7 linked regions of the Homo sapiens genome follow. The protein of the gene in region 6 purifies or fractionates together with the protein of the main gene of each other region. This does not show direct contact. Each region holds a gene or a part of one and is shown on either strand. Other genes may lie near its edges. The genes, in order: GNL3L, RPS27L, ZNF148, MRPL19, LSM14B, KAT6A and TTC4.

What was found.
Region 1: the proteins of KAT6A (region 6) and GNL3L purify together in Homo sapiens (affinity purification with mass spectrometry, with the first as the bait; one large-scale study listed by BioGRID). This does not show direct contact.
Region 2: the proteins of KAT6A (region 6) and RPS27L purify together in Homo sapiens (affinity purification with mass spectrometry, with the first as the bait; one large-scale study listed by BioGRID). This does not show direct contact.
Region 3: the proteins of KAT6A (region 6) and ZNF148 purify together in Homo sapiens (affinity purification with mass spectrometry, with the first as the bait; one large-scale study listed by BioGRID). This does not show direct contact.
Region 4: the proteins of KAT6A (region 6) and MRPL19 purify together in Homo sapiens (affinity purification with mass spectrometry, with the first as the bait; one large-scale study listed by BioGRID). This does not show direct contact.
Region 5: the proteins of KAT6A (region 6) and LSM14B purify together in Homo sapiens (affinity purification with mass spectrometry, with the first as the bait; one large-scale study listed by BioGRID). This does not show direct contact.
Region 7: the proteins of KAT6A (region 6) and TTC4 purify together in Homo sapiens (affinity purification with mass spectrometry, with the first as the bait; one study listed by BioGRID). This does not show direct contact.

Annotation. Positions count from the first base shown.
Region 1 is NC_000023.11:54,564,504-54,568,497, reverse strand, and holds the end of GNL3L (guanine nucleotide-binding protein-like 3-like protein), read right to left. Parts: 3' UTR 1,209-3,994; downstream 1-1,208.
Region 2 is NC_000015.10:63,154,271-63,159,097, forward strand, and holds the start of RPS27L (ribosomal protein eS27-like), read right to left. Parts: upstream 3,208-4,827; 5' UTR 3,136-3,207; coding exon 3,130-3,135; intron 2,252-3,129; coding exon 2,143-2,251; intron 1,462-2,142; coding exon 1,351-1,461; intron 1-1,350.
Region 3 is NC_000003.12:125,368,512-125,372,719, reverse strand, and holds part of ZNF148 (zinc finger protein 148), read left to right. Parts: intron 1-4,208. UniProt on the Homo sapiens protein: Involved in transcriptional regulation. Represses the transcription of a number of genes including gastrin, stromelysin and enolase. Binds to the G-rich box in the enhancer region of these genes.
Region 4 is NC_000002.12:75,652,821-75,657,028, reverse strand, and holds part of MRPL19 (large ribosomal subunit protein bL19m), read right to left. Parts: intron 2,294-4,208; coding exon 2,112-2,293; intron 1,966-2,111; coding exon 1,744-1,965; 3' UTR 1-1,743.
Region 5 is NC_000020.11:62,128,577-62,132,784, forward strand, and holds part of LSM14B (protein LSM14 homolog B), read left to right. Parts: intron 1-348; coding exon of another isoform or gene 349-456; intron 457-1,208; coding exon 1,209-1,376; intron 1,377-1,642; coding exon 1,643-1,720; intron 1,721-1,953; coding exon 1,954-2,115; intron 2,116-2,779; coding exon 2,780-2,930; intron 2,931-3,779; exon of another isoform or gene 3,780-4,208. UniProt on the Homo sapiens protein: mRNA-binding protein essential for female fertility, oocyte meiotic maturation and the assembly of MARDO (mitochondria-associated ribonucleoprotein domain), a membraneless compartment that stores maternal mRNAs in oocytes.
Region 6 is NC_000008.11:41,939,780-41,943,987, reverse strand, and holds part of KAT6A (histone acetyltransferase KAT6A), read left to right. Parts: intron 1-8; coding exon 9-240; intron 241-987; coding exon 988-1,195; coding exon of another isoform or gene 1,196-1,207; exon of another isoform or gene 1,208-1,939; intron 1,940-2,543; coding exon 2,544-3,146; intron 3,147-4,208. UniProt on the Homo sapiens protein: Histone acetyltransferase that acetylates lysine residues in histone H3 and histone H4 (in vitro). Component of the MOZ/MORF complex which has a histone H3 acetyltransferase activity. May act as a transcriptional coactivator for RUNX1 and RUNX2.
Region 7 is NC_000001.11:54,722,361-54,725,860, reverse strand, and holds part of TTC4 (tetratricopeptide repeat protein 4), read right to left. Parts: intron 3,187-3,500; coding exon 3,062-3,186; intron 1-3,061.

The sequences.
Region 1 (3,994 bases), on a different chromosome or scaffold from region 6:
GCAGCCTCTAGAAGCTGAAAAAGGCAAGGAAATGGATTCTCCCCTAGAGTCTCTGGAGAGAGTGTAACCCTGACAACACCAATTTTGGCCCAGTGAAACTCATTTGGGACCTCTCACCTCTAGAAGTGTAAGATGATAGATTTGTGTTGTTTTAAGCCACAAAGTCTGTGCTAATTTTTTACAGCAGCAATAGAAACTAATATAACTTCCCAACAATTTATTAAAAGAATAGGCTGGGTGCAATGGCTCATGCCTGTAATCCCAGCATTTTGGGAGCCTGAGGCGGGCGGATCACAAGGTCAGGAGTTCGAGACCAGCCTGGCCAATATGGTGAAACCCCATCTCTACTAAAAATACAAAAACTAGCCGGGCGTGGTGGCACGCACCTGTAGTCCCAGCTACTCAGGAGGCTGAGGCAGGAGAATCACTTGAACCCGGGAGGCAGAGGTTGCAGTGAGGCAAGATCATGCCACTGCACTCCAGCCTGGGTGACAGAGTGAGACTCCGTCTCACAAAAAAAAAAAAAAAAGAATAATACATCATGACAAAGTGGGGTTTATCACAGGAATGCAGGATTGGTTTATCATAAGAAAATCAATCAATATAATTTATTAAAACTACATTAAAAACAAACCACAAAAGAAAAACCATGTAATCATTTCAATAGATGCATAAAAACATTTAAGAAAATCTAACATCCATTCCTAAAACAAACCCTTAGCACCTCATACTAGTAAAGGGCAATACAAAAATCTAACATACTTAATGGTTAAAGGCAGAAAGAATACTCTCCCCCAAAGTCAGAAACAAGACAGGGATGCCTGTGCTCACCATTCTTTTTTTTTTTTTTTGAGATGGAGTTTCGCTCTTGTTGCCCAGGCTAGAGTGCAATGGTGTGATCTCGGCTCACTGCAACCTCTGCCTCCTGGGTTCAAGAGATTCTCCTGCCTCAGCCTCCCAAGTAGCTGGGACTACAGGCATGCGCTGCCACACCCAGCTAATTTTGTATTTTTAGTAGAGACGGGGTTTCTCCATGTTGGTCAGACTGGTCTCAAACTCCCGACCTCAGGTGATCAGCCCACCTCAGCCTCCCAAAGCGCTGGGATTACAGGCGTGAGCCACCGCACCTGGCCACCACTCTTACTCAGTGTAGTACTGGAAGTCCCAGCGACTACAATAAGACAAAAAAAAAAATGCAGACATATATATTAGACATGAAGAAATAAAACCATGTTTATTCACAGAAGATATGATTGTCTATGTAGAAAGTCTGGTTAAATCTGCAAAAAAAGCTACTAGAACTAAGTGACTTTAGCAAAGTTTTAGCACATACTGCTAGAAAAATTGGGTAACCATATTTTTTTAAAAAGCATAGATTCATACCTTGTACCATATACAAAAATTGACTCAAAATGGATCATAGACCTAAATGTAAAACCTAAAACTATAAAACTTTTAGGAGGAAACATGGGAGAAAACCTTTGTCATCTCATGTTAAGCAAAGACTCCTCTGATGTAACACAAAAAGCATGATCCATAGAAAAACAAATTAATAAATTTAACAGCCATGGTGGCACATGCCTGTGGTCCCAGCTACTCAAGAGGCGGAGGTGGGAGGTTCGCTTGAGCCCAGGAGGTCGAAGCTACAGTGACCTATGAGCACACCACTGCACCCCAGCCTGGGTGACAGTGAGATCCTGTCTCAAAATAAGGGGAGAGATCTCCATACCCATATTCATAACAGCATTTTTCACAATAGCCAAAAGGTGGGAACAATGCACATGTCCATCAGTGGATGAATGGATAAATAAAATGTGGTATATACACACAATAGAATAATACTCAGCATTAAAAAGAAAAGAAATTCTGACGCAGGCTACAACACAGATTAAGCTTGAATACATTATGCAAAGTGAAATAAGCCAGTCACAAAAAGATAAATATTATATGACTATCAGGGTATTCAAATTCAGAGACAGAAAGTAGCATGGCAGTCGCCAGAGGTTGTGGGCAGAAGGGGTTGGGAGGTTATTGTTTAATAAGTACAGTTTTGGTTATGCATAATATAAATCATTCTGCCATAAAGACACATGCACACATATGTTCACTGCAGCACTATTCACAATACCAAAGACATGGAATCGACCTAAATGTCTATCAACGAAAGACTGGATAAAGAAAATGTGGTACATATGTGTGGGGATTATGGGAACTACAATTCGAGATTTAGGTGTGGACACAGCCAAACCATATCAGATGGTAACGTTTATGTTCTGTGTATTTTACCATAATTTTTAAAAATAAAAACAAATGTGTCAATAAAGCTTTCCCATAATGAAAAAAAGACACCGTTTACAGAATGAGAAGACAAGATACTGGCCAGGCACAATGGCTCATGCCTGTAATCCCAGAACTTTGGGAGGCTAAGACGGGTGTATCACTTGAGGTCCAGAGTTCAAGACCAGCCTTGCCAACATGGTGAAACCTTGTCTCTGGTAAAAATATAAAAGTTAGCCAAGCATGGTGGCCTGCGCCTGTAATTCCAGCTACTCAGGAGGCTGAGGCATGAGAATTACTTGAACCCAGGAGGCAGAGGTTGCAGTGAGCCGAGATTGCACCACTACACTCCAACCTGGGTGAGGACTCTGTTTCAAAAAAAAAAAAAAAAAAAAACACCCCTGTATCCAGCATATAATCCTCAAAATTCAAAAATAATAAAACAATCCAAAATATGCAAGAGATGTGAACACCTTGCCAAAGAAGATATGTAGATAGCAAATAAGCATATAAAATATGCTCAAATCATTAGAGGATGCAAATAAAAACGATGAGATACCACCACATACTTAATGTCAAAAAACCTGGCTGGGCATGGTGGCTCACACCTGTAATCCTAGCACTTTGGGAGACCGAGATGGGAGGATTACTTGAGGCCAGCAGTTCAAGACCATCCTGGTCAACACAGTGAGACCCCATCTCTATTTAAATGTATTAAAAAAATTAAAAAATTTAAAAATTAAAAAACTAAACTGACACCCCCAAGTACTAGAGAGGATGTGGAAATGAAACTTTCATACTGATGGGAATGTGAAATGGTAGAGCCACTTTGAAAAACAGTTTAGAAGTTTCTTAAAATGTCAAACATATGCTTACCATATATCCCAGCAATCCAACTCTAGGTATTTACTATAGATAAATGAAAACACAAAATGTTGCATACAAATGTTTATAGCAGCTTTACTTGTAATTGTCCAAAACTGCAAAGATCCTAAACATCCTTCAACTGGGGAACAAACAGTAGTAAATCCACACAATGGAGTGACTCAGAAATAAGAACTATTAATATACTGAGAAATATGGATGAATCTCAAATGTATTACTCATAGCAAAAGAAGTCGCTCTCAAAATGCTACATACCATATAATTTCATGTATATAACAGTCTTCAAAAGACGAAAATATATGGCCGGACACGGTGGTTCATGCCTATAATCCCAGCACTTTGGGAGGCCGAGGTGGGTGGATCTTTTGAGGTCAGAAGTTCAAGACCAGCCTGGCCAGTGTGGAGAAACCCCCGCCTCTACTAAAAATACAAAAATTAGCCCAGCATGGTGGTGGGCACCTGTAGTCCCTGTTACTCGGGAGGCTAAGGCAGGAGAATCGCTTGAACCCAGGAGGTGGAGGTTGCAGTGAGCCAAGATCACGCCACTGCACTCCAGCCTCAGTGAAAGAGTGAGACTCTGTTTCAAAAAAAAAAAAAAAAAAAAGACAAAAATATAAGAACAAAGAAAAAGGCCAGGCGCAGTGGCTCACTCTTGTAATCCCAGCACTTTGGGAGGCTGAGGCAGGAGGATCATGAGGTCAGGAGTTCGAGACCAGCCTGGCCAAAACAGTGAAACCCCATCTCTACTAAAAATACAAAAATTAGCTGGGCGTGGTGGCGGGCGCCCATAATCCCAGCTACTCGGGAGGCTGAGGCAGGAGAACCGCTTGAA
Region 2 (4,827 bases), on a different chromosome or scaffold from region 6:
CTGTTTCTCAAATGCTATAATGAAGTCTACTTAAGACCATGAGCCTGAATTCAACAGTGAAGACTGTTTCAAGCAAGCTGTCAGAAGATATACTCTTAATTTTTAGGAACTATTCTGAATACTTTTCTCAAGTAAATAATTTTGATTAGAGGTATTTTCAGACCTATTAGGAAAACTCTAGAACAGATAGACCCATTAAACCATCTGTCAGCATATGGGCACTAAATTCCAAAATCATGACATGACATACTTTGTTTCAAAAATCTCCCAAGTATACTTAGCAATATTACTTAGCAATATTACTCTTAAAAAAATCATGTGCTGACTCCATATTTAGATCTCACCAGGTCACACCAAATAGATCTCAGATTTGCTGCCAATCCACTTGAACTCTTCCAGTGAGAGCATGGAACTTACAGCTCCCCAAAATATCACAAGCAAATTTATAACATCATTATGGAATCACAAATTTACAAGTATTACTATGGAAACTATATATATAATTTTTTTTTCTTATTGCACTAAAGTGAAAGAGGAATTAAAATTAGGTTTTTATATTAATCATTGCAGTTGCTCATAAAAGTAAAATCTCTGGCATTTTAACTTATATATTAGCTATCTGTTGCTTAGCTGGCAATGATAAAAAAAAAACTATTATATGTACTAAATATATATGGAACAAAATTTTGTAAAAGAAATTTTAAAATTCTATATGGTTTTAAAAATCTGTATGTCCTGGCCGGCGAGGTGGCTCATGCCTGTAATCCCAGCACTTTGGGAGGCCGAGGCGGGCAGACCATGAGGTCAGGAGATCAAGACCATCCTGGCTAACACAGTGAAACCCCACCTCTACTAAAAATACAAAAAATTAGCCAGGCATGGTGGCACGCGCCTGTGGTCCCAGCTACTTGGGAGGCAGAGGCAAGAGAATCACTTGAACCGGGGAGGCAGAAGTTGCAGTGAGCTGAGATGGCGCCACTGCACTCCAGCCTGGGTGACAGAGCGAGACTCCTAATAAAAAAAAAAAATAATAAATAAATAAATAAATAAATCTGCATGTCCTATAACATGTAGTTATTCTTTTGCTTCTATTCTGACTTAATTTATTCCAAGTTAAGCAAACTAAGTGAATAAATGTGTTCTAAACTAAGAAAAATAAGTCAATGGAGTTCACTGCAAGGTCAAGAGTATAAATATATCCATTTGAACAGGCCATTCTTTACTGAAAGCACACAATGAAAGATAAGTTATTTTGGTAATCATTAAGATTTCTTTAAACTTTTCAGTGAAGATAGAGACATTTATAATCATCAATCTCATCACTGGGTTGGAGAATGCCAAATGATATACCTTCTGTGAGTCTGGCCTTTCCTCCTGTAGGCTGGCACAACACTGTTGAACAACCTACACAAAGAACCACTGTCTGAGCATGGCTGAAAACCGTGGTGATCTTGTAGCAACCTAAAAAAAAAAAAAGGCAATGTTAAAAATGAAAAGCAGAGGAAAACAGCACCTGTTCGACATTTCTGGTAATATGTAAAAAAATCAGTAACTTCAGTGCTATGAAACAGCAAGCCACATGTGTAACATAAACTTTTCTAGCAGCGACACAAAATTTTTTAAAAACAGGTAAAATCAATAATATATTTCATTAAACTTAATATTTCCAAAATATCATTTCAACATGTAATCAATGTATTTTTTTTCTGTGCTACATCGTCAAAATCCAGTGAGTATTTTACAATTAAAGAACATCTCTATTTTGAGTATCCACATTTTGATTATCCACAAGTGCTCAGTAGCCACATTCAGCTAATGGCCATTGTATTGGGCAGCACAGCTTTAGACTGAAGAATCAACAGACTTTTCTTTGTATCATGAAACAGAAAACTCATCGTCTGAAGAGCTTAAAGACTTGCTAAGTCAAATGGCATATCTCCTTTGAATGCCTGTTTTCACTTACCCCGAAATGTTTCTACAATGGTTTCAGTACATTTATTATGAAAATGTCCCTGACATTTCCAATTCTGTAATCCCACTTCTACTCAACAGAGGGTTCTAATGTATCTTAACTATACACACCACACTAGCAATCCCTACAGAAATTTTCTTTAGTAAAGGAATTAAGATTTCAAATTTTACCTGGACATTTTACATCCATAAAGTAAGAATTTGGACTTTGTACTAGGCGTTTCTTTTTATGTTTTTTCTTTTCCTCTTCCAAGGACGGATGTAGTAAATCTCTAGCCAACTGAACAAAGAAGCATATTATTACTATTAGTTTTAAACCACAACGCTGGCACATTTAACCATACGTGAAATATACATGCAAAAACAGGAATAACGGTCATCCTCGGCAGAAGCAACACGTCAGATAGTAAAGTTATTTTTCGAAACCTGTTAATAACTTTCATCAGTACTTTTCATAATACTTGTGTTCTCCAAGTCCCTAGAAAAGGGCTTTCGCACGATCAGGAAACATATGGTAAGGCAAACTTTGTCCTTCTTTACTCAACTGCGTAATGAACTGTCTTCGATGAAAACTGCGCGAAGTCGAGGTGCTAAGCAAAGAAAGTGACCCCGACTGTGGACTCGCTTAGAGTAGAAACTGCTGAAGTAGACCAGACAACGTCAGCGCCTGGGTGATTTTTGCTCCTGTGGCTCAACAGCTGATCTGACAGGAATTCTTGCTGAGCGACCGTCCTTGACGGAATTAATATATAAGGCAACAACGAGGACAGTTTTTAAAAAAGGAAAACAAGTAGGAAATCGCTTCCGAAAGAAGGCAGAGGGGGCGAGAAACACCAATCACTGGGAAAGCCAAAAGACCCAAAGATCACAACCTCAGGGGCATCCTCAAAGACCAAGACCGCTCATAAGCTACACAGAGAACTGTTCCCCTCCCAGCCACCGCCTCTGAATTGCAGCCCACGCCCCTGCAGGGCCAGCCGCGCCGCGGTGACCGGGCAAGTCACTACATGCCCGCCACGCGCGAAGACGCTGCGCAACCTGAGCCGCCTCGCCACTCTCGGACACTACAGGCCCGAGAGGCAGCCGGACTCATCCGTCCCATATGACTCTCGGTAAAGAAGCCCAAAACAAACCCGGAGCCCGATGTAAACAACTCACAGGCATGTTGATCCTCTTGCAAGCTCAGCCCTACCAGACCTCCCAGCCCACACAGCTAGCAAGCTGCAAGCGATCTGCGCTCGGCATCAACTTCCGGGATAGAAGCTGCTGGGAGGAGCGGCGGGGCGGGCTTGTCTGCTCTAGGCCCTCCTCTCGGTGGTAGGGGGACGCCGCAGCAGGGTACTCGGGTCCAGGGCGCAGGGAAGACCCGGGGATGGTGAGCGTTCCAGGGTGCCAAGTCCCGTGGGTCTAACGGGCTTGTTGGCGAGCGCCGCGGGCTCTGCAGTGCCTGAGGCCAGAATCTGGCTGGGGAGCGGCCTCGGGCTTAGGCCATGGCGAGGGAGCGCCCGCGGCCACCGGGGCCGGCGCCACCCCGGAACCCGGCGGGCCGCTCAGCCCCCGGCCCCCTGGCCCGGCCGCTCTCGGTTAGCTCTGGGGGTGGGCACACGGGGCAATGCCACTATTCTCTTCTTTTGTGTATTAAAAAATACAGTATTATTAACCATTAATACGTGCCAGAGAGATTATGAAAGAGGCTCGTATCCTTTTGGCTTCCCTTTTCAAGGCGCAGATTTCGAAGTTTTCTGCGGGGTATGGCTGTGCCTTAGGTTTGCTTTGTTCTGAAAAAAAGTTTTTAAAACAGCACGGATTCGCTGCTGTGCCTCATTCACTAAGAGGCCCCACCCCTTCCGAGGATTACTCGTCCTTTGCAGAGTGGACAACTAGGGGGCCTGAGAAAGGCGAATGTCACCGATGACCGAACATGAGTCTTTATCATTATTATTATTTGAGACAAGGTCTCGCTTTTTTGCCCAGGCTGGAATGCAATGGTGCCATCACAGCTCACTGCAGCCTCGACCTCCTGGGCTCAAGCGATTCTCCCGCCTCAGCCTCCCGAGTAGCTGGGACCACAGGAACACGCCATTATTCTTTTTTTTTTTTTTTTTTTCCTTGGAGACAGGGTCCTGCTATATTGCCCAGGCTTGTCTCCAATTCCTAGGCTCAAGAAGTCCTTCCACCTCAGCCTCCCAAGTAGTTGGGACTACCGGCGCGTGACAGCATGCTCTATTTTTGAGGAGGAAACTCTATGCTTGAAAAATGGGTGTCATGGGCGACCAAAAGGCAAGAAACCAGAAAGACACTTTACCAGAAAATTGGTCTAACTGGATTTTTTTTTTTTTTTTTTTTTTTTTTGGCAGAGTCTTGCTCTGTCACCCAGGCTGGAGTACAGTGGCGCGATCTTGGCTCACTGCAACCTCCGCCTCCTGGGTTCACGCGATTCTCCTGCCTCAATCCTCCCAAGTACCTGAGATTACAGGTGTCCATCACCATGTCCGGCTACTTTTTGTGTTTTTAGTAGAGACGGGGGATGGTGGGGGGGGGGTTCACTATGTTGGCCAAGCTGGTCTCGAACTCCTGACCTCAAGTGATCTGCCCGCCTTGGCCTCCCAAAGTGTTGGGATTACAGGCGTGAGCCACCGCGTCCCGCCCTGACTTGATGTTCTTAATCACCTTATTTGTCTTTGCAAAAAGGATACATGTATAATATACATTTTGGGAAATGCAGAAAAATAGAAGAAAATTTACCATCTGTAAATAAACATTTTTAACTTTTGACCTATATCCTTCCCAATATTTTTTACTCTCTTGGATATAGGTTTATTTTGGGTTTTGACTTAACCTAATTGGGATCATCTT
Region 3 (4,208 bases), on a different chromosome or scaffold from region 6:
CTGGGATTACAGGCGTGAGCCACTGTGCTCGGCCTCTACTCTTTTATTATAAAATTGTTCTGAGGGAACTTACAATGAAAAACAGCAGCCCCTGTCTCACCTGCCTATTGCAGTTCCACTTTACTGAGGCTGCTACTTTTAAGCATTAATTTTGTATTTCTTACCATGCTTTTTTCCATGTCTCCAAGTAATGGGCATATAATATTATTTCTTGATTTATCAAAATGACATTATCGGAGTCAGAAGATGTTTATGAATGTGTCATTGACATTATCCCCTTTCTCCTCCTTTCTGACCTTTGATATTTATTTTAGTTATTTTATTCAGTGTGTTTATATTTTTAAATAATATGCTTAAACCTTGATTTTAGAATCCAACAATCTTAGGCTGTATCTCTTGATTTCCCCATTGTATTTTAGGGATTTAGCCTAGGTATGGCTTTCCTGAAGTAGAAAGAACATTGACAATTAGACTAAAAATGCTGGATGAGATGATAAAGAGAAGTTTGGATGGACCTATCAGAAAGACCATGTTGTAGGAACCATCTTTGCAGTGTAAGATTTGCTTGTTAGAGATGAAGAGGAGTTGCTTGACAATGATAGTTGTTCATCTTGGAATTAGTTACCAGATTGCAGTATTTTTTTTTTTTTTTTTTTGAGACGGAGTCTCGCTCTGTCACCCAGGCTAGAGTGCAGTGGTGTGATCTCGGCTCACTGCAAGCTCTGCCTCCCAGGTTCACGCCATTCTCCTGCCTCAGCCTCCCGAGTAGCTGGGACTACAGGCTCCCACCACCACGCCCGGCTAATTTTCTGTATTTTTAGTAGAGACGGGGTTTCACCGTGTTAGCCAGGATGATCTCGATCTCCTGACCTCGTGATCTACCCGCCTCCGTCTCCCAAAATGCTGGGATTACAGTCATGAGTCTCCGCGCCCGGCCTGATTGCAGTATTCTTTGACAGTCTTCTGGAGAGTTTTAGTGTGGGAAATCTGGAAATGCATTAAAATGACCCTTGAATGTTTTTTCTAGGGTTCTGTGGCAATTCTTTTTTTTTTTTTTTTTTGGGACGGAGTCTAGCTTTGTCGCTCAGGCTGAAGTGCAGTGGCACGATCTCGGCTCACTGCAACCTCTGCCTCCTGGGTTCAAGCAATTCTCCTGCCTCAGCCTCCTGAGTAGCTGAGATTACAGGTGCCCGCTACCACACCTGGCTAATTTTTTTGTGTTTTTAGTAGAGACAGGGTTTCACTGTAGATGGTCTCGATCTCCTGACCTCATGATCTGTCCGCTTCGGCTTCCCAAAATGCTGGGATTACAGGCGTGAGCCACTTCGCCCTGCCCCCCCCCCCCCCTTTTTTTTTTTTTTTTGAAACAGGGTCTCACTTTGTCACCCAGGCTGAAGTGCAGTGCGCATGTTCCCAGCTCACTGCAGCCTCCACCTCCTGGGCTCAAGCAATCCTCTCACCTCAGCCCCACAAGTAGCCGGGAATACAGGCATGAGCCACCACTCCCAGCTAACTTTTTTTGTATTTTTTATAGAGACGGGGTTTCGTCATGTTGCCCAGGCTGGTCTTGCACTCTTGGGCTCAAGTGGTCTGCTTGCCTCAGCCTCCCAAAGTGCTAGGATTACAGGCGTGAGCCACCGTGCCCGGCCACAATTCTTATGTTTTTATTTTTAGGAGGTAATGGATTGGCATATACATGTGTTTTTTGGGGGGATGTAGTAGGGAGAGATGGGAAATGTGGTAAGAGGAGGATGAGGATGAGGAACAGGGTTTGATGGAGGTGGTGATACATTTTGAGGAGGCTGAAGAAAAGGTAAAGAATTTTGAGGGGGATTTGGATATAGTTAATGTGAAGGAGGTTTACCTTATGGTGATGAGACTAAAATTTTTGTCATTTTTAAGGAAATTAGCATGTTTAAGTCACTAATATGTTGGGAATGTGGTAGGAAAAAACTATACTGGGCCCAATCTCCTCTGTTAGGTTAGAGTCATAAAATATTAATGTTTTTGAAATTTGTGTATGAGGTGCAAATCACTATGGTGGATGTTGGGAGATTAGAAAGATAATTACTCCACTTCTTTTTGGGAGTCTAAGTAATGGCAACTCTTGAGAGTCTTCCTTACTTTCAGTAGTAACAGTATTCACATGTAGTTTATGTATTGCTAAATTTTGTATTTGTGACAATTATTCTCTTTGTTTTGCAAATGGTACATTGTAACCTGTTCTAGAGCAGAGACTTCCTGTAGTCTCTAGGGAAACTAACAGCAGGTTGATTCTTAAGTGCTTAATAAATACCTGTTGAATGACTGATAGAAAGTAGTGTTCACTGTTAGTGATAATAGTGGGATTGTATGAAATTGCTGAGTACTTTGGGGGTATTGTAGGCAAAACTGTGTGTGTGTGTGTTTGACAGCGTGAAGGACAAAAGGGATATCTGGAGAGGACCTTTAGATTTAAGGGAAGAAGACAGACTGGATTAGAATGGAATTGCAGTGGTTCTGTAACAACTTGGAAGAGGTGGGACCAAGGGGTCTCTTCTAAATTTGAAGCTAGTTTAATCTGGAGTAAAATCTGGTCTGTAGCAGGGTGCTGGTTTAATTTAGATTTTTTTTTTTTACCTCAGGCATAAATGACTGTTTTAGGACTGTCTGATTTAATTCTTTTTTAGGATAGTAAAAATAACAGATAAGCTTCTTCTCTCAAGGAATTTGTAGTATTTACAATTTTTTTTTTTTTGAGACGGGGTCTTGCTCTGTTGCCCAGGCTGGGGAGCAGTGGTGCGATCTCAGCTCACTGCTGGGTTCAAACTCCGCCTCCTGGGTTCAAACAATTCTCCTGCCTCAGCCTCCCAAGTAGCTGGGATTACAGGAGCGTGCCACCATGCTCAGCTAATTTTTGTATTTTTAGTAGAGGTGGGGTTTCACCATTCTGGCCAGGCTGGTCTTGAACTCCTGACCTCAGGTGATCCTCCCACCTTGGCATCCCAAAGTAGTATTTACATTCTTTTGAGAGAGAAAGACAGTTGTGAAATAATTCAGTAATGGTATAAGATTTCAGAAAGTTGATTTTTAAAAACAAATATCAAAATTATATCTCCAGATAAGAACTTTTATATTTCGGTGGTCATTTTCAGTAGCAGTGTTCAGAATGTTTTTAGAACACCTTTTCTGAATTAACTTCTGAGTACAATTCTATAGAATTTACCTATTTATTGAGTATCTAGTGTGTGCTGTTGGGGGAAGGGGTCTATAAAGGTGAGCGAAACATGGTCCCTGTTTGCTAGGAGTTCATAATCCCTTCAAGAGGCACACTTTTTTTTTTTTTTTTTTTTTTTGAGGTTGCAGTATTCTTTGTCTTCTGGAGAGTTTTAGTGTGGGAAATCTGGAAATGTATTAAAATGACCCTAGAATGTTCTTTCTAGGCTTCTATGGCTTTTTTTTTTTTTTTTTTTTTTTTTGAGGCAGGATCTCACTCTGTCACTCAGGCTGGAGTCCGGTGGTGTGATCTTGGCTCACTGCAACCTCCGCCTCCTGAGTTCAACTGATTCTCGTGCCTCAGCCTACCAAGTAGCTGGGACTAGAGGCACACACCAGCACACCCAGCTAATTTTTGTATTTTAAGTAGAGACACGGTTTCACCATGTTGGCCAGGCTGGTCTCGAACTCCTGGCCTCAGGTGATCTGCCTGCCTTAGCCTCTCAAAGTGCTGGGATTACAGGTGTGAGCCACTGCGCCGAGCCCAAGAGGCACACTTTTGTTTGTTTGTTTGTTTTTTGAGATGGAGCCTCTCTCTGTCACCCAGGCTGGAGTGCAGTGGCGCCATCTTGGCTCACTGCAACCTCTGCCTCCCAGGTTCAAGCGATTCTCCTGCCTCAGTCTCAGAGTGGCTGGGACTACAGGCGTGCACCACCACTTCTGGCAATTTTTTGTATTTTTTAGTAGAGATGGGGTTTCGCCGTGTTGGCCAGGCTGGTGTCGAACTCCTGGCCTCAAGTGATCCACTCACCTTGGCCTCCCAAAGTGCTGTGATTTCAGGCATGAGTCATCACACCCGGCCAAGAGGCACACTTTTAAATAATACATGGTATAATCTTATTCTGAATGGTCTTATTGATGACAGATCTTTTTACTTTGAAATTTTGATTTTTAGAAATGCTGAAGGTTAGTCAATATCAAATAGAGTGAATGAAAAATAGTTTTGCCTTAAA
Region 4 (4,208 bases), on a different chromosome or scaffold from region 6:
GGTTGTAAGAAAAGGAACTTCTACAAATCAAGAAGGGGTCTTAAGATTTTAAAATACAATAGCAAAGAGTTGGAAGATTGAGCTAAAGAGCTAAAAAACAGAGACTGGGGTCAAGGGAGGGAGGTAAGAAAATAGATACCCAGTGCTGGATATCCAACATCCAAATAATAGTTGGGAGAACAAAGCAGCAGAGAATAAATCATCAACCAATGCTAAGTGTTTCCCAGAACTGACAGAAATGAGTTACTATCTGGAAGGGTTCACCTAAAACCCAATACAATGGATAAATATAGACCCACACCAAGACACATCATCATGAAATTTATGATGGGGAAATCAAAATGGCATTGGATTTCTCAATACAACAATAGAAACAAAGAAAATGGAGCAACAATATTTTTAAAGTCCTGAAGGAAAATTACCTCCTACCTAAACGTATAAAGTATCAATCAAACATGAGACATGCAAGGTCTCAAAAATTTTACCTCCACACAAACTTCCTCTAGAAGCTACCAAAGGATGTGCTGCAGCAAAACAAGTTAGTACTCAATAAAATGGAAAACATGGAATCCAGAAAACAGCTGAGCGCAGGAAAGAAGTTAGTCCCAAGACAGCTAGGAACCAGAGGGCAGATCTGAAGGTAACTCAATGGATAGGCTGAGAGTTGCCTTCAAGATTTAGGATAGTACTGTATTTTTTAACCTGAGGAACAGTATATCCAGGTGAGTATGGACCAAATTACATGTTTTTCTTTAGCATGTGTGCTTATACCCCAGCTTTCCAATCCATGCTGCATGGATCAGCAACAACACTCATATCATACCAAAGGTATTGTTTTAACCTAATCCTAAGATACAGAGTTTGATTCATCATGCTGTGAGCATCAAAAAACAGTTTACTTCCTCTAACCACATTTCTGCAACATCCAGCTACCCAGTATAATCCTGCCAGATACCTTGTGGTGAGCCTTCTGTTTAGCAGAACTCACTCATAACCTTAGCCATGAATTTGCTCAAAATTGGCCTCTGTAAACTCTCAGAGGAAGCTGAAGCCAGACTATGACCCAAAGACTGTAACGTTTCCCTTGAAGCCTTCATGCAATAATAGTAATACTGCCCCTTTATACTTGCTAACAGGTTTTTTTTTTCAGGTTTTTCAAAATTAAATATATTGTTGAAGAATATATGTGTTGGCAGTAAACTAAAAGAAATGCAAGGGAATAATTAACAAGTCAAGATGATATTTACATTTAAAAAGGAGAGAGATACAATTGCAGATTTACTGGAGTCTTCTGAGATCTTATTAAATGTTTTATTTCTTAACATTCCTACATATTAATAAATGTTCTATTTCTTAACCTGATAGTGGGTACATGAATGTTTATTATTCTGTAAATCATATTGTGCTTATGAATTGTTTCACAATTAAAAAAAAAATTCATCCCACCTATTCCCTTTGCTCAGGTTCCATGCTCATTAAAGACCATTCTGGTGATGCTCTGACTTCTATTGTAGCTTTGCCTCCAATAAGCAAATGGACATTGGTCCATTTGGCATGTGTAATTCTCTTTTTAGAGTAATAAACTGGTGTACAAGTTTTATTTTAGAAAAAAAGTATTAATAAAACAATGAATGCTTAGTTCACTTAATTACTATGTTCTTATAAATGAAATTAAATTGGTCTCAAAATATATCCTCTTAGAGCCAATGTATCTTCTGCAACTAACCAAATTCATTCTCAGAATCAAGACCTTTTCGACGCTTCAATTTCCTTCCATATTGCAGCTTCAATTTTTGAAGTATCATATTCCCTCATCATATCAAATTCAAGCCATGGCTGATTCCACTTCTGAGCTTCTTTCATTTGCTGTTCAGTTAAACAAAGATCAAATCTGATTCCTTTAATATTAAAATTTGGACGTTCCCAGCGTTTAGACCAGGGCTTAGGCTTCATTTTTACTTTCAGCTAAGGAAGATTAAAAAAAAAAAAAAAAAAAAAGCAATAATTAGGCTGATAGGCATGAGCAAAAATTCTTCTGAAGTTTTCATTAAGATGATTCTTTCTTTCTTATTTTATACTTGAACTTCTAGTTTCAAATGTATAACCCATACCTCATTAACAGGAACTTTTTGGTTAGGCTCTTGTACTACTGGCTTCATATTCACATCAAAAGTGCTATATTCAGGAAGGGCATCTCGTAAGTATAGCAAGCTATCATCCAGCCGTTTCTCTAATTTGACCACCTGAATCTCCTGGACCCGAGGATTATAAAGTTCAAAGCAAATCTCGACACCTAAATAGAACAGAAAACATATTCTTACAATCTAAGTCCACGTTCCTATACATGTTTCATACTGCAGTAAAAGCATTTCATAAAGGAATTAGCACAAAGTTTTGCATGTAGAAAATGTGCCGTTAATTTGAAATTTTTAAGATAAAGATTACTGAAAGAAATAGAAATAAGCTAAAATCCATTTAAATATAAAGTTAGAAAGTCTGAATTGGAATGATAGTCTAAAAAAGAAAAAAATGGCTTCTAGAAATATGTTGAGTCACATATCTCTTCAATTCTCATAGTAGTAACTTCAGAGAAAGTCTGAATTCTTCCCTATGTCACGTTTTTTATCTCCCAATTACTTGAAGAAAAATCAATCTTCCATGTTAAGAGTAATAAGACTAATGGTACAAAAGAAGTAAAATATTAAGTTCCAACTTTGGTTAGAAGCTCCTTTGATTAAGGATTAGTGGATTAAAGGGATGGAGAGAACTAGTTTTGCCTTTTGCCCTTCCACCTTTCACCATGTGAGGGCACAGTGCTTGGCCCTTCCAGAGCACACAGCAACAAGGCACCATCTTGGATGCAGGGAAGGAGGCCTCACCAAATACAAAACCTGCCAGCACCTTGAACTTAGATTTCCCAGCCTCCCGAACTGTGAGAAATAAATTTCTGTTCTTTCTAAATTACCCAGCCTGTAGCATTTTGTTACAACAGCACGAACAGAATAAGCCACCAGAAATGTAAACCAGAGAGACTGCACAAATGCAAGCAGATGATGGTGACATGGATGAGGGTGATAGCAATGTAGAGGGAAGAACAGGCAAAATTGTGATATATTTTTTGGAGACTGTGCCAAGAAAACTTGATTGACTGCATGTGTGAAAGTAAGTGGGTAGGCAGAGTGGTACCATTTATGGAAATAGAAAAGACTGTGAATGGAACACCTTGCAAGGGGAAATAAAGAGTTCTGCTTTCAACTTATGCTGGTAAGACATCCAAATAGAGTGTTGATCAGATAGTTGCAGATAGTTGCAAATCTGGAACTTAAAAAGGGTCAGTCCTGGAGTTATAAATTTGGAAGTTATCATTATACAGATGGTATACAAAGCCACCGAACAAGAAGGAAACACTAATGCAGGAAGCAGTGATGGGGAAGGTTGAGGCAGGTTACAACAGTCAGACATACTACAGAGAATGGCAAGAGGGAGCTAATCCTTTTTGAGTATTCTGTGTCCAGTACTTCAAATACAGTATCTCACAGTTGATTGGCTAGAACCATGTAGAGTAGAAACTATTACTATCTTAATGCTTAAAGAAAATCAAATGACTCACTCCTATGCTCATTTACTTCTATTACAAGGCCTCTCCAAGTATTTGACCAGATTGAAGGCACAAATCAATTAAGTCCTGCTGAATTCCTGCACGCACAGCCCACTGTCATTACAGAATAAGCAAGACAGCAACTGCTTTCACATTTTCAATTTCTTTGAAAATAAGAATACTTTGTTGTTGGAACTTCATGAAGCACACAACTTGATAAACGTAATTGTTCCTGCCATTTTAATTAATAATCTTGCTAGAGTTTTACTCCTTGTTCCTCTATTAGGCATAGTATATAAACACAATTTTGCCTTTTTAAAATTCCTCCCAAGTCATATAAGACAGTGATAATTTTGTTTTGTGTCATAACATAAAGTAAAATGTGGGTATTCATTTTAGGAGCAAGTAATTCATGAAGACATTAAAGGTTTGTCTTAAAGTTTTACTCATGGGTTATTTGCTCCTAAAACAAATATCCCCATACTGCTTTATAGTAATTTATTCCCCTCTTTGATGTTGCCATGGTTTGCAAAGTCTACTTCTAATGACTGTTGTTCCAATAACATAAGAAGCCTTCAAGAGAAAGAAGTCCATCAACCATATTTAATCA
Region 5 (4,208 bases), on a different chromosome or scaffold from region 6:
TTGTTTGAACTAGTTGGTTGTGTAAAAAGCAGACAAGCCCCTTATCCATGCCCCTGCAGTCACAGTATGATCAGCAGGCAGGCAGTGCTGTGTTTGTCTCCCGGACATGCTGAGTGAGACAATCAGTGAGAAAGTGGCCCGGGTGCATTCCCGCCAGAGGACACTTTCCAGACCTCTATGCAGAGTCGTTCCAACCTGCCCTTTGAGAGCTTCTCTTGATCTGGTTACAAGGAATTTTTCTACAGTCAATTTTTTTTTTCATTTCTATTCCGTAAAAGCAGTAAGATGAGATGCCCAGTCTTCATGTGTATTGGGCTGTTCGTCTAATAATAATTACCCTGTGGTTAGGGTGCCTTTTCTGTTTCAGATCTCTGTTCACTTACACCCAGTCCCACATTGTCCTGTTTAGAGTCCCTACAGGTCCTGGAACCTTGGAAAGGGAGGAGATGGAGAGAGGTGGGTGGTGCTTCCCATTTTCCTCCTGATTCAGAGGGCCTGGTTTCTGAGGGTTCATCCCCTGTGCGTGGGCCTCGGACTGCAGTTTCATAGGCATAGCCCCTTGCCAAAGGCTACCTAGGAGCCCTTTGTGTCTTCATGATGAGCCTTTGCCCTTGAGAGAAGTGTAGGCTGCTACGTCTCGGAAGTCAGCTCCTGCTTCATCATTTTTAGTTTTATTGTGCCTTAAGTGGAAATGACAGTGTTGTAGAATTTAACTTCAGAATTTGTTCACTGCATTTTCTAGAAAATCCCAGGCTGGGCTGGTTCTTCTCCAGTGTGGACCAGAATGAAACAAATTCTCAGATCCTGAATTCATCAGGATCTTGGGGCTGCTGAGCTCCTTTGGGATTGGAGCTTGTGTGGTTTTAAGAAAGCTGTTTCCACACTTCTGGGGAGGTGCCTGTTTGTAGGCACGGTGTTTTTCCTGTCCTTGAGGTTCCCTAACTTGGGAAGCTCAGGGCTTTGGGAGTGGGGAGTCCAAAGATGAACTGGCCTTGGTGCTGCCCAGTGACTCTTGGCCTTCTTTTGCTGCCTGGGCTAGCCTCAGAGGGAATGGCCCAGTCTGGGGGTGCTTTGCCTGGATTTGATAGAACATCTAGGCAGTTGCCCTCCTTTCCTTCCTGACATGCCAGCAGAAGAGAAATGCCTGGAGATATAAGGCTTGCTTCTTTTCTCTCTGTTTTTAAACCCTCCTCCCCTCCTCAATTCAGGAGCTGGTTTTCCATCCATCCCAGTCGGCAAGAGCCCCATGGTGGAGCAGGCTGTGCAGACTGGTTCTGCTGACAACCTGAATGCTAAAAAGCTGTTACCTGGCAAGGGCACCACAGGGACGCAGCTCAACGGTCGTCAGGCCCAGCCGAGCAGCAAGACGGCCAGCGGTACTTGAACACATCATTTCCTGGAGTTTGCTTGATGTTCTAAAAGTGGCACACTACTTCCTGGGCTATTTTTTTTTTTTTAATTAAAAAAATACTACTCCCCCATCCTAAGCCCCATGTGCTTTTGCAGGGCAGGCCTGTGCAGCAGCCTCCTGCGGTGCCGCCCTGGCCGCGTGCCCCATGGTGGTGGGGCCTGCTTCCACAGCTGGGTTCTGGCTTCCGGCTGCTATAGGAGCTTTGCCTTACTCTTCCCTTTTGCGCCGTAGATGTAGTCCAGCCGGCAGCTGTGCAAGCTCAAGGGCAGGTGAATGACGAGAACAGAAGACCTCAGAGGAGGCGATCAGGTAACACCTGTTGCCACTTGATTTCTGGGGACCACGAGTGATCAGGCTGAGCTCTGCTTGCCCTCCTGCCTGCTTCTCTGGTTGACGGTTTCAGGGGTGCTGGTGTGAAGTCGCTGCTTGTGTGCTCTGTTCCTTCTGTGGCCTTGGGGGTGTGCCTGGAAATTCCTTGTGAGGTGTTTGAGATCACTGGGTTGGTGACCTACTTCAGCCAGGGCTGTCCTTTGTCCTCACAGGAAACAGGCGAACAAGGAATCGCTCCAGAGGGCAAAACCGTCCAACTAACGTTAAGGAAAACACAATCAAATTTGAGGGTGACTTTGATTTCGAGAGTGCAAATGCCCAGTTCAACCGAGAGGAGCTTGACAAAGAATTTAAGAAGAAACTGAATTTTAAAGGTTTGGCTCATTATATGAAAATTATTCTCTGCACAGGAGTACCCCTAGAGAGTGTTAGGAGGAGATGCCTGGCCGGGTGTGGTGGTTCACGCCTGTAATCTCAGCACTTTGGGAGGCTGAGGTGGGTGGATCACCTGAGGTCAGGAGTTCAACACCAGCCTGGCCAACACAATGAAACCCCATCTGTACTAAAAATCCAAAAATTAGCCAGGCGTGGTGGTGGGCGCCTGTAATCCCAGCTACTCGGGAGACTGAGACAGGAGAATCGTTTGAACCCAGGAGGTGGAGGTTGCAGTGGGAGTGAGCCAAGATTGCGCCACTGCACTCCAGCCGGGCGATAGAGCAAGACTCTGTCTCAAGGAAAAGGAAGAGATGCCTAGAGGAACCGGGGATGCCAGGCGGATGGTGACCGGCAGTGAGGAATTAATGAAGTGAGGTGCTGGGAGGTGTGAAAATGGGTGGGATAAGGTGCAGACTGCACAGCCCAGACGGCAGAACGAGACCTGTACTTAGAAGGTAGAAGAAGAGATTTCTGCTTTGCACAAGGCATAGTTGATGTCTTAGCTTGAGGGTGGCTTCCGAGTGAGCCCGGAGGGACCACCCTGCTAAAAGGCTGTGCGCTCTGCCCCTCCTCCATCTCCACGTGTTCTGCTTCTTTTTGTAGATGACAAGGCTGAGAAGGGGGAAGAGAAGGACCTGGCTGTGGTGACCCAGAGTGCCGAAGCGCCCGCTGAGGAAGACCTTCTGGGGCCCAACTGCTACTATGACAAATCCAAGTCGTTCTTCGACAACATCTCTTCTGAACTCAAGACCAGGTGAGAGGCTGAATGAATGAGGGGAGGACAGTCCTCCAATCTAGAAAGGACAGGGCTGAGGGCTCTCAACCTGAGGGCAGAGCTGGACTCTGAGGCTCAGGGTAGCTGTTCTAGGGTCCTGCTTGCGTTTCTGCATGATGGGTGCCGGAGTCCCAGCAGGTTGCGTGTGGGAAGCCTCTTGGGGATCCCGACCCGAGGAGTTGGCTGAGGTCGAGCCTGTTTCCTCTTGGCTTTGCTGCCCTGTCCCCACAAAGGCTGGGCTGCACCGCCCCCCCCGGCAGACCCGTGTCCACATTCAGCATACCTCACGGTGCTCTGCTTGCTGGTCCCGCTGGCCTGGCAGCCTGAGGTCCTTGCTTAGCAGCCTGAGGTATGGCTAGAACGTGCTCACACTGGCTTTCCTTCACTTCATTGTTTGAGGCCAGGGACCATGTGGTGTGTTTTATTTTTCACACCTAACAGCTGGTCAGAAGTCCCGCGAAGCACCCTAGGGAGTGGGTGGCATCTACAGTGTGGGCCTGGCTTGGAAACTTGGGCCCATTTGTCCTGCAGATTGAGCGCCAGACATGCCGCGGGGCGTTGAGGGGGCCTCAGAAGGCAGGCTGGAGAGCGCCACCTCTTCAGGTTCATGTTCTGCCAGGGGAAAAATAGAACAGCATGTCGTGAAGGCCAGGCAGTGAGGGCGATGGGATGGGGCTGTAACTCGATGGGAAGTGGATGATCAGTTCTCACAGGCAGAGCAGGCTGCGCAGATGAGTGCGGGAAGTGCTTCCAGACAGGCCGAGTCTGGGGGATGGGTTCCTGTAGGGTTTTGTAGGGCATGGCAGTGACTTTGGCTTTTGTTCCAAGTGCCGCGGGAAGCCATCAGAGGGTTTTGTGCTGAAGCGTGGTGCGGTCTGATGTTTTACGGCGTCCTTGGTGAGAGTGGTTGGACGGTGGGCAAGTGTGGCTGCTGACTGGCCAGTTAGGGGCCAGTGCTGCAGCACAGGTGGCTTGGAACCAGGCAGTGGTGGTGACAGAGGGAAGGAGTAGAGTCTAAATGTGTCTTGAAGGTGGCGCTAACAGAATTGGCCAACATGACAAGAGAAGAGTCCAGAATGACTCCTAAGTCTTTTGGCCTGGGCGGCTGATGGGTGGAGTTGCTGTTTCTTTGAACACGGAAGTCTGTGGGAGCAGCAGGTTTCCGGCTGAAGAGGAGCTCAGGGTGGGTGTGCTGCTGGAGCTGTTGTCTGCGTCGGTAGGAGTGCTGGGTGGGAGTGCTGGGTGCACAGTTGGATG
Region 6 (4,208 bases):
TTCTTTAGGTTATTTGTTATCAAAGCGTGAAGGCCAAGCAGGGTCTCCAGAGAAACCGTTATCTGATCTGGGTCGTCTTTCCTACATGGCATATTGGAAAAGTGTAATATTGGAGTGCCTTTATCACCAAAATGACAAGCAGATCAGCATTAAGAAGTTAAGCAAGTTGACTGGAATCTGCCCTCAAGACATCACTTCCACACTCCACCACCTACGAATGCTGGACTTCCGTAGTGACCAGTGAGTATCACATCTTTTTGTATACCTTTGAAAGATAATTAGGTTGAAGTTTTTTGGATCAGCCAGTCAGATTATTGATGAAAGGGCATTAACTAATATAAATGATATACTTGGTGATAATGAGATATCATTTTCCTTTCTAGGATATTTTATTTGATTGACTATATATATGGTCTATATATAGTCTATATATATGCTTTTTAAACTGAATTGTTTTTCTGATACCCCTAATTTTTGGACCTAAGCTACTGAATCTTTCATCTTCTAGTATTGGGAGCTCTTTCACAATACAAGAAGTAACCACTCTAGAAACAGTCATTAAATAAAATGCCCATGTTAAATTTTCATATAAATGGCACAAAGTAAATATAGATTGAAAGGAAGAACAGACAGTTCACCCTTCACTAAAGTGGTCAGAAAAAGGTCACAAAGAAAGGAGGCATTTGAGCCAAATAAATGGAGAATAGGAAAGAGAGTGCAGAAGAGCAGCAGAACTTCTGGAGCGGGACGTGTGAGACAGCAGGCAGTGAAAACAGCCCGCGGCCACGGTAGAGAGCGAAGCATTTGTCCTGCTTCACACTCCTGGCCGTCTCATGTGGTGGCACATTTCTGCATTCCATCGTCCCAGGCAGGCTATCTTTGCAGCACCTATCATCTTACATGCTTCACCAGGGGTCTCATCTCCACATTCATTTTTATGTACACCTTGTACATTGTTGATTGCTATAAACTTTTCTCTGGTTCCAGATTTGTGATTATCCGCCGGGAAAAACTTATCCAGGATCACATGGCAAAGCTTCAGCTGAATTTGCGACCTGTAGATGTAGATCCAGAATGTTTGCGCTGGACTCCAGTCATAGTGTCCAACTCTGTGGTCTCAGAGGAGGAAGAAGAGGAGGCTGAGGAAGGAGAAAACGAAGAGCCACAGTGCCAGGAAAGAGAATTAGAGATCAGTGTAAGGGCATGAATAGTCTCTATTTTTGATGACAGAAGATATATTTTTGATTTCATGAGTATTTATAATAATGTATTATGATCATCTTTCACAGAAAAGTAAATTCACATTAGAATGTCAAGAGTTTTATTTCAGTGGTAGAGATTTCAAGAAGACTGGACCTGGTTTACTTAAGTATTTTTAAGCCTTGGACAATTAGGAGGAGACCATCAAATTTCTTATAATGTGTTACTTGTGAGAAAAATATTTGTTACCAGGGTGCCAAGAAGCAGCTCAGTTTTAAGCTGGATAGTAGTTGAGAAATCTGAATTGAATCCAAATCTGACAGTTTTTAAAAATGAAATGGAGGTTGGGTGTGGTGTTTCATGCCTGTAATCTCAGCGCTTTAGGAGGCCCAGGCGGGAGGATTGCTTGAGATTAGGAGTTCAGGACAACCAGGGAAATATAGTGAGACCCCATCTCTACAAAAAAAACCCAACAACAAAATGAAATGGAGATACATTTTCCTTAAATAGAATATTAAGTAACTATTGTAAACTTGTGTATGTTTTCTGATGGGGCACCAAAACATCCTGTGGACACACAGATCTCTTTAGCCGTTAAAGGGTTGCTGGTGAACTGTAGTGCATGTGTCATTGTCAGTATTTTTCTTCATGTGATGCATACTTTTATAGCTCTTTTTTTTAAGCAGTGCTTCATCCTTTCAACACCGGTATCCTCCTTTAATAAACATAAAAAATCCCATGCCTCTCTTTAGTGCAGTTTAATTTTTCAAAATGAAATTATTCAGAATAAAAGTAAATTTAAAAACTACATAAACTTTCTTTCATATTTCTCAAATGCCTCCTTCCTCTTGCCCATGTCTCAAGATCCTGTCTCCTCCACCCTGTTTACAAATTTTTATTTCTGAGAAATTTTATTAAACAATCTCATTTAACATTTAAAAGAACAATAGTATTCACTTTGCTTATTGAGGGTGGTACTGCAGAAAGATTCAGAACATAGGCTCTGGAGTCAGACTGCCAGGCTTTCTATCCCAGCATCTTCTCTTGCTCTTGCGTGACCTGGGGCAGATTACTTAAATTTTTTTCTACCCCACATGCCTCATTTGTAAAGTGGAGTTGTAGTGGTAATACTTCATATGATTGTTGGGGAGATTAAATAAATAATGCATATACAGAATTTAAAGCAGTGCTGAAACAGGAAATATCCATGTTAAATAACTGATCATTTTCTTTTTAAAGCTCAGTTTCCTTTTCTTCTCTCAATACTTAAAAGGTCAGAATAGGTAAATGTAAGCAAACAAGACTGAAAAATTAACCAGCATTGTTTTATTTTCTAAAATCAGGTGGGAAAGTCTGTGTCTCATGAGAACAAAGAACAAGATTCTTATTCAGTAGAAAGTGAAAAGAAACCAGAAGTTATGGCTCCAGTCAGTTCTACACGTTTGAGCAAACAAGTCCTTCCTCATGATAGTCTTCCTGCAAATAGCCAGCCATCTCGGAGGGGCCGCTGGGGGAGGAAGAACAGAAAAACCCAGGAACGTTTTGGTGATAAAGATTCTAAACTGCTCTTGGAAGAGACGTCTTCAGCTCCTCAGGAACAATATGGAGAATGTGGGGAGAAATCAGAAGCCACCCAGGAACAATACACTGAAAGTGAAGAACAGCTGGTGGCTTCTGAGGAGCAGCCAAGCCAGGACGGGAAACCTGACCTTCCCAAGAGAAGACTCAGTGAGGGGGTTGAGCCCTGGCGAGGACAGCTCAAGAAAAGCCCTGAGGCTCTGAAGTGCAGATTAACAGAAGGAAGTGAGAGGCTGCCCCGTCGCTACAGTGAGGGTGACAGGGCTGTCCTCAGGGGCTTCAGTGAGAGCAGCGAGGAGGAGGAGGAGCCGGAAAGCCCTCGGTCAAGCTCGCCACCAATTCTCACAAAGCCCACGCTGAAGCGAAAGGTAACGCATTTCTTTCCAGGTCTTCTCTTCCTCCAATTCCAGTTTATCTTACACCTTCTCGTTTTAGCTTACAGTTCTGAAAGAGTATAAGTTAGAAATTCCTAGTGCATTGCTTTATAAACCTTAAGCCTCTGTATATTGTAGCTCAAGATCTTCCCAGTGAACATTTGAGATGTGTGTGTGTGTTTGACTTCTTTGATTCATGGGAATTCACTTAGAAATCATAAGCTTATTTAAGGGCTTCACCTCCTGGGATGCAAACAAACTTTTTTTTAGCTTACTGGTTTGATGTTCAAATCATGACTTTTAGGGGCTTAAAGCCCTAAAATATCTTTAAAAGATATTTTTAAAGTATGTACAGATTAGAAGTGTTTATATTAGAAAAGGAGGCCAAAATATTACATAATTAATTGGAAAGTGAACATAGTGCTGCCCTATATTTTGGGGTACTCAGAGTACAGTAGCTCATCTTGGGTGCTATTGTTTTCTCTCTACTCTCCCCACTTCTCACACATCCCTCCAGTGGTTTAACGTGGTCTCTCTTGCTTTAAAAATATTTTCTAAACTATATTCCATCATAATGATAGCCAATTAGTTATTAAATAATGTACAATGATGATAATGAATTCTGTTAAGCCGTTTACCAGAAACATCCCAGGCTATGGAGTGGATTTTAAGCATTGCCAGGAGGCAGCCAGACTGAAGCGAGGCTGCTCCCTGGAAGAGCCACTCAGCCAGCTTCCAGCCAAAGCAGCACAATCGTTCCTTTCCTTACAGGGTCTTAAAAAGCAAGACAGGATCTTTTGTTTTGTTTTGTTTTGTTTTAAGAATAATATCTTCAGAGCAGTTTTACATTTACAGAATTAATGCAAAGAAAGTACAGAGAGTTCTCGCATACCCCAGCCAGTTTCCTCTATTATTAATCCCTTGCGTTGGTGTGGTACATCTATCACAGTTACTGAACCAGTGTAGATACATCAGTAACTAGAGTTCATACTTTATTCAGATTTCCATAGTTTTCCCTAACGTCCTTTTTCTGTTCCAGGATCCCACCCAGCATAT
Region 7 (3,500 bases), on a different chromosome or scaffold from region 6:
CTGTTGAGCCCCTCTAGTGAATTTTTCATTTCAGTTATTGTACTTTTCAACTACAGAACTTCTGTTAAGTTCTTTTTAGTAACTTCTCTTTGTTGATATTCTCTATTTGGAAAGACATCATTCTCATACTTTTTTTAGTTCTTTAGACACTATTTCCTTTCATTCTGAGAAGATATTTAAATTAGCTGGTTTAAAGTCTTTGTCTAGTAAGTCCCACATCTAGGCTTCCTCTAGCTAATGACCAGACAGTAAGTCTTCCAATCTTTGTCAAGAGGCTTTGTGTACATGTTGAAGCACATTTTTAGCATTCACCCAAGCAGTTTACAATTCTACCTTAGCCTTCACTTCCTTCTTGCAGAGACTCTGAGAGCTTAGGGTCTTCTCAGGTCTTTCCTGAGCACATGTATAGCCCTGGGCACATGTGTGACCATCTAGATCTTCAGGAATACTGGAGCTTTTCGGAGCCCCCACAGAATTTCATTCCCCAGTTTTTCCTTTTAAGCTTTATGATGCACCTATTGTTTGCTCCAGTGTTATCCACTGCTTCAGCTTCTACAATCTTTAACAATTGCCTCTAATTGTTTTTTGACAAATTCTCTCCCACCTTTTCATTCCCCCTATTTTCTGGCCCTATGTAAAAAAGCTTTTTATACTGGGTAAGCTCCAAGTCAGGTCATATAAAAATAGCCCTGTGAGCGGGGTCTTCCAGGGATCTACCAGATGGTCAAATCATCACAGTTCTCTGGGAAAAGGCTTTGAAAGAGCTCCAACCCTGTTCTGCCTCCTCTGGTGGCTGCAGGCTGCTCATTTTCACCATGACTGTGGGCTACTGGCTTTCAAGGCTACTGTGGAACTGGAGAGGAGGGAGATGAGAATAGAGCAAGTTAAAATGTCACAAAGCTTGCTGTTCTTACTGAGGTTCCAACATTTTTCTTGAATAAACATGCTCCAGATTGCTGCAAACCTCTGGTTCATTTCCAGAGTCCTAGAAAAGTGAATTCTGATCATTTTTGCCAGTTTCCTCATTGATTTTATGGAGGAGAAAAATTGTAAAGGTCTTTAGTCCACCACTGTGATTGACACTACCCCTCTCTATTTTTTAAATACTGGTTTTATTAATTACTGAGATAGTTGATATTTCCACCTATTTGTGGATTTGTCTCTTCCTTCTTTGAGTTGTCAAGTTTTGCATCATGCATTTTGAAGCTGTTAGTAGGTGCCTACACATTTAGAATTGTTAAATATTCTTATAAGCTGGTCCTTTTATCATTTAAAAAAATGCTTCAGTGGCTGGGCACAGTGGCTCATGCCTGTAATTCTAGCACTTTGGAAGGCTAAGGCAGGAGGATTAAAGCCCAGGAGTTTGAGACCAGCCTGGGCAACATAGTGAAACCCCAACTCTACAAATTTACAAATTAAAAAAAAAAATTAGCCTGGCATGGTGGTGCACGCCTGTAGTTCCAGCTACTCAGGAGATTGAGGCAGGAGGATCAGTTGATCCCAGGAGGTCAAGGCTGCAGGAAGCCATGATCATGCCACTGCACTCCAGCCTGGGCAACAGAGCAAGACTCTGTCTCATGAAAAAAAAAAAAGAAAAAAAGCTTCACTTCATCTCTGGTAACACTTGCTGCCTTGAAGTCTACTCTGTCTGATATTAACATAGCCACAAGTCTGTTGGCTATATGCCAAGCACATAGGAACCCAGAATCAGCTTGTACTCAGACACAGGGGAATACTTCAGCTATTCAGCAAGTAATGTCACCTAGACCTAATATCAGGCTTCTGGGCCTTGAAATCTCCCTTTAATTGTGACTGTCCCCAGTAGCCCTCTAGACATTCATTCCTGTATATACCACTTTCAGAAATTCTGGCCATACCCAATTACCTAGGCTCAGAATTCTGTTATTGAGCCATGTGGGTCCATAGAGATCTACCTTTTCTACCATTTCATATGACCAGAATGACCTCTGGTCATTGCTGATGATATATGACATTTCTGGCACATAACAGCTAAAATGATGATTAAAAACAGTAATAATAACAGAATACCATCACTACCCAAAATAATATCCAACATTTAAATAGCACTACTGTGTGTGTGCTCCAGGTGTTATTTAAAAACATTCCTTACGTTAAACCATCTAAACTATATAATAGCCCTATAAGGTAGGAAATATTTTAATTCTCCTTCTACTAGTGAGGTAGCTAAAGCACAAAGAGATCAGCAAGTTGTCCAAGTCACATAACTGTCATGAAGGGAGTCTTCAAATTCAGGCAGTGGCTCCAGAGTCTAAGCTCTTAGCCACTGTGTAATACTGTCTTACATGCCTGTTAATAGAAAGCCAGAACTAGTCTTAAGGTCTCTTAATTCCTGGTTTAGGTCTCTCTTCATGGCTTATACTACGGAATGGGAGTATATAATATACACTGGGAGTCTTTAGCTGGCCCTGAACACGTGACATTGTTATGTGACTGTATATAGTAATGGTATCTAATTTTGCCCTGGACAAGACGTGTCTCCATTCAGATTGATGGGGATACATTCTGAAAAATGCACAATCATTGTTGTACAAGCATCATGGAATGTACTTACACAAACTGAGATGGTATAGCCTGCTACATACCTAGATTATATGGTACAGCCTATTGCACCCAAGCTACAAACCTGTAAAGCACATAACTACACTGAATCCTGTAGGCAACTGTAACACAATGGTAAGTATCTGTGTAGCTAAACACATCTAAACACAGAAAAAGCACAGTTAAAATATGGCATCATAATCTTATGGGACCACTGTAATATATACGGAGTTCCATCATTGAATGAAACACTGTTATGTGGCACATGACTGTACTACCACTATACACACCATCTATCCTTGCTTACCTCTATATCACACTATAACTGTTTACTTGTCTGTGTGCTCCACAGAGTTCCAGGAGTAGGGACTAGTTTTGGGTTTTGTTTTTAAAAAGTTTACAATGACTTGAGAGACACAATCTTGGGAATGCTAATTACTGCTAATTAGCAAATGCTAATTGGTTGCTGACAGTCACCAACCTTCAGCTTGTCTGCTTTAGCCCTCATTTCCAGAAGCTTCTTCTCTTTGGCATCTATTTGCAGTCCCTCATCACACCAGTTCACGGCCTCGGCAAAGTGTTTCAGTTCCAGATGGCATAAGGCACCTGCAGAACCCAGAACCCTTAGGATTCAAGAAAAACATGCATGGAAAGAACCTGCTTTGGGCAAGATCTCCCATCCCCCACCAACTACCAGCCAGTACCCTGAAGGCAAAATGGAGGATAATGCCCCTTATACTGCAGTCCCCAGACAAGGGAGAATACTTTTTGTGTCCTAAATCAGAAAAATCCCTAAGGTCCATTTAGTTCAAAACTCCTGTAAGTCTCCCTGGTATTAAGGGCTCTTAAAGTAGGAAAAGCTATAACTTAGTGGCAAACCAGATAGATCAAGGCTAGAAATCTGGCTGTGTCATTTACCA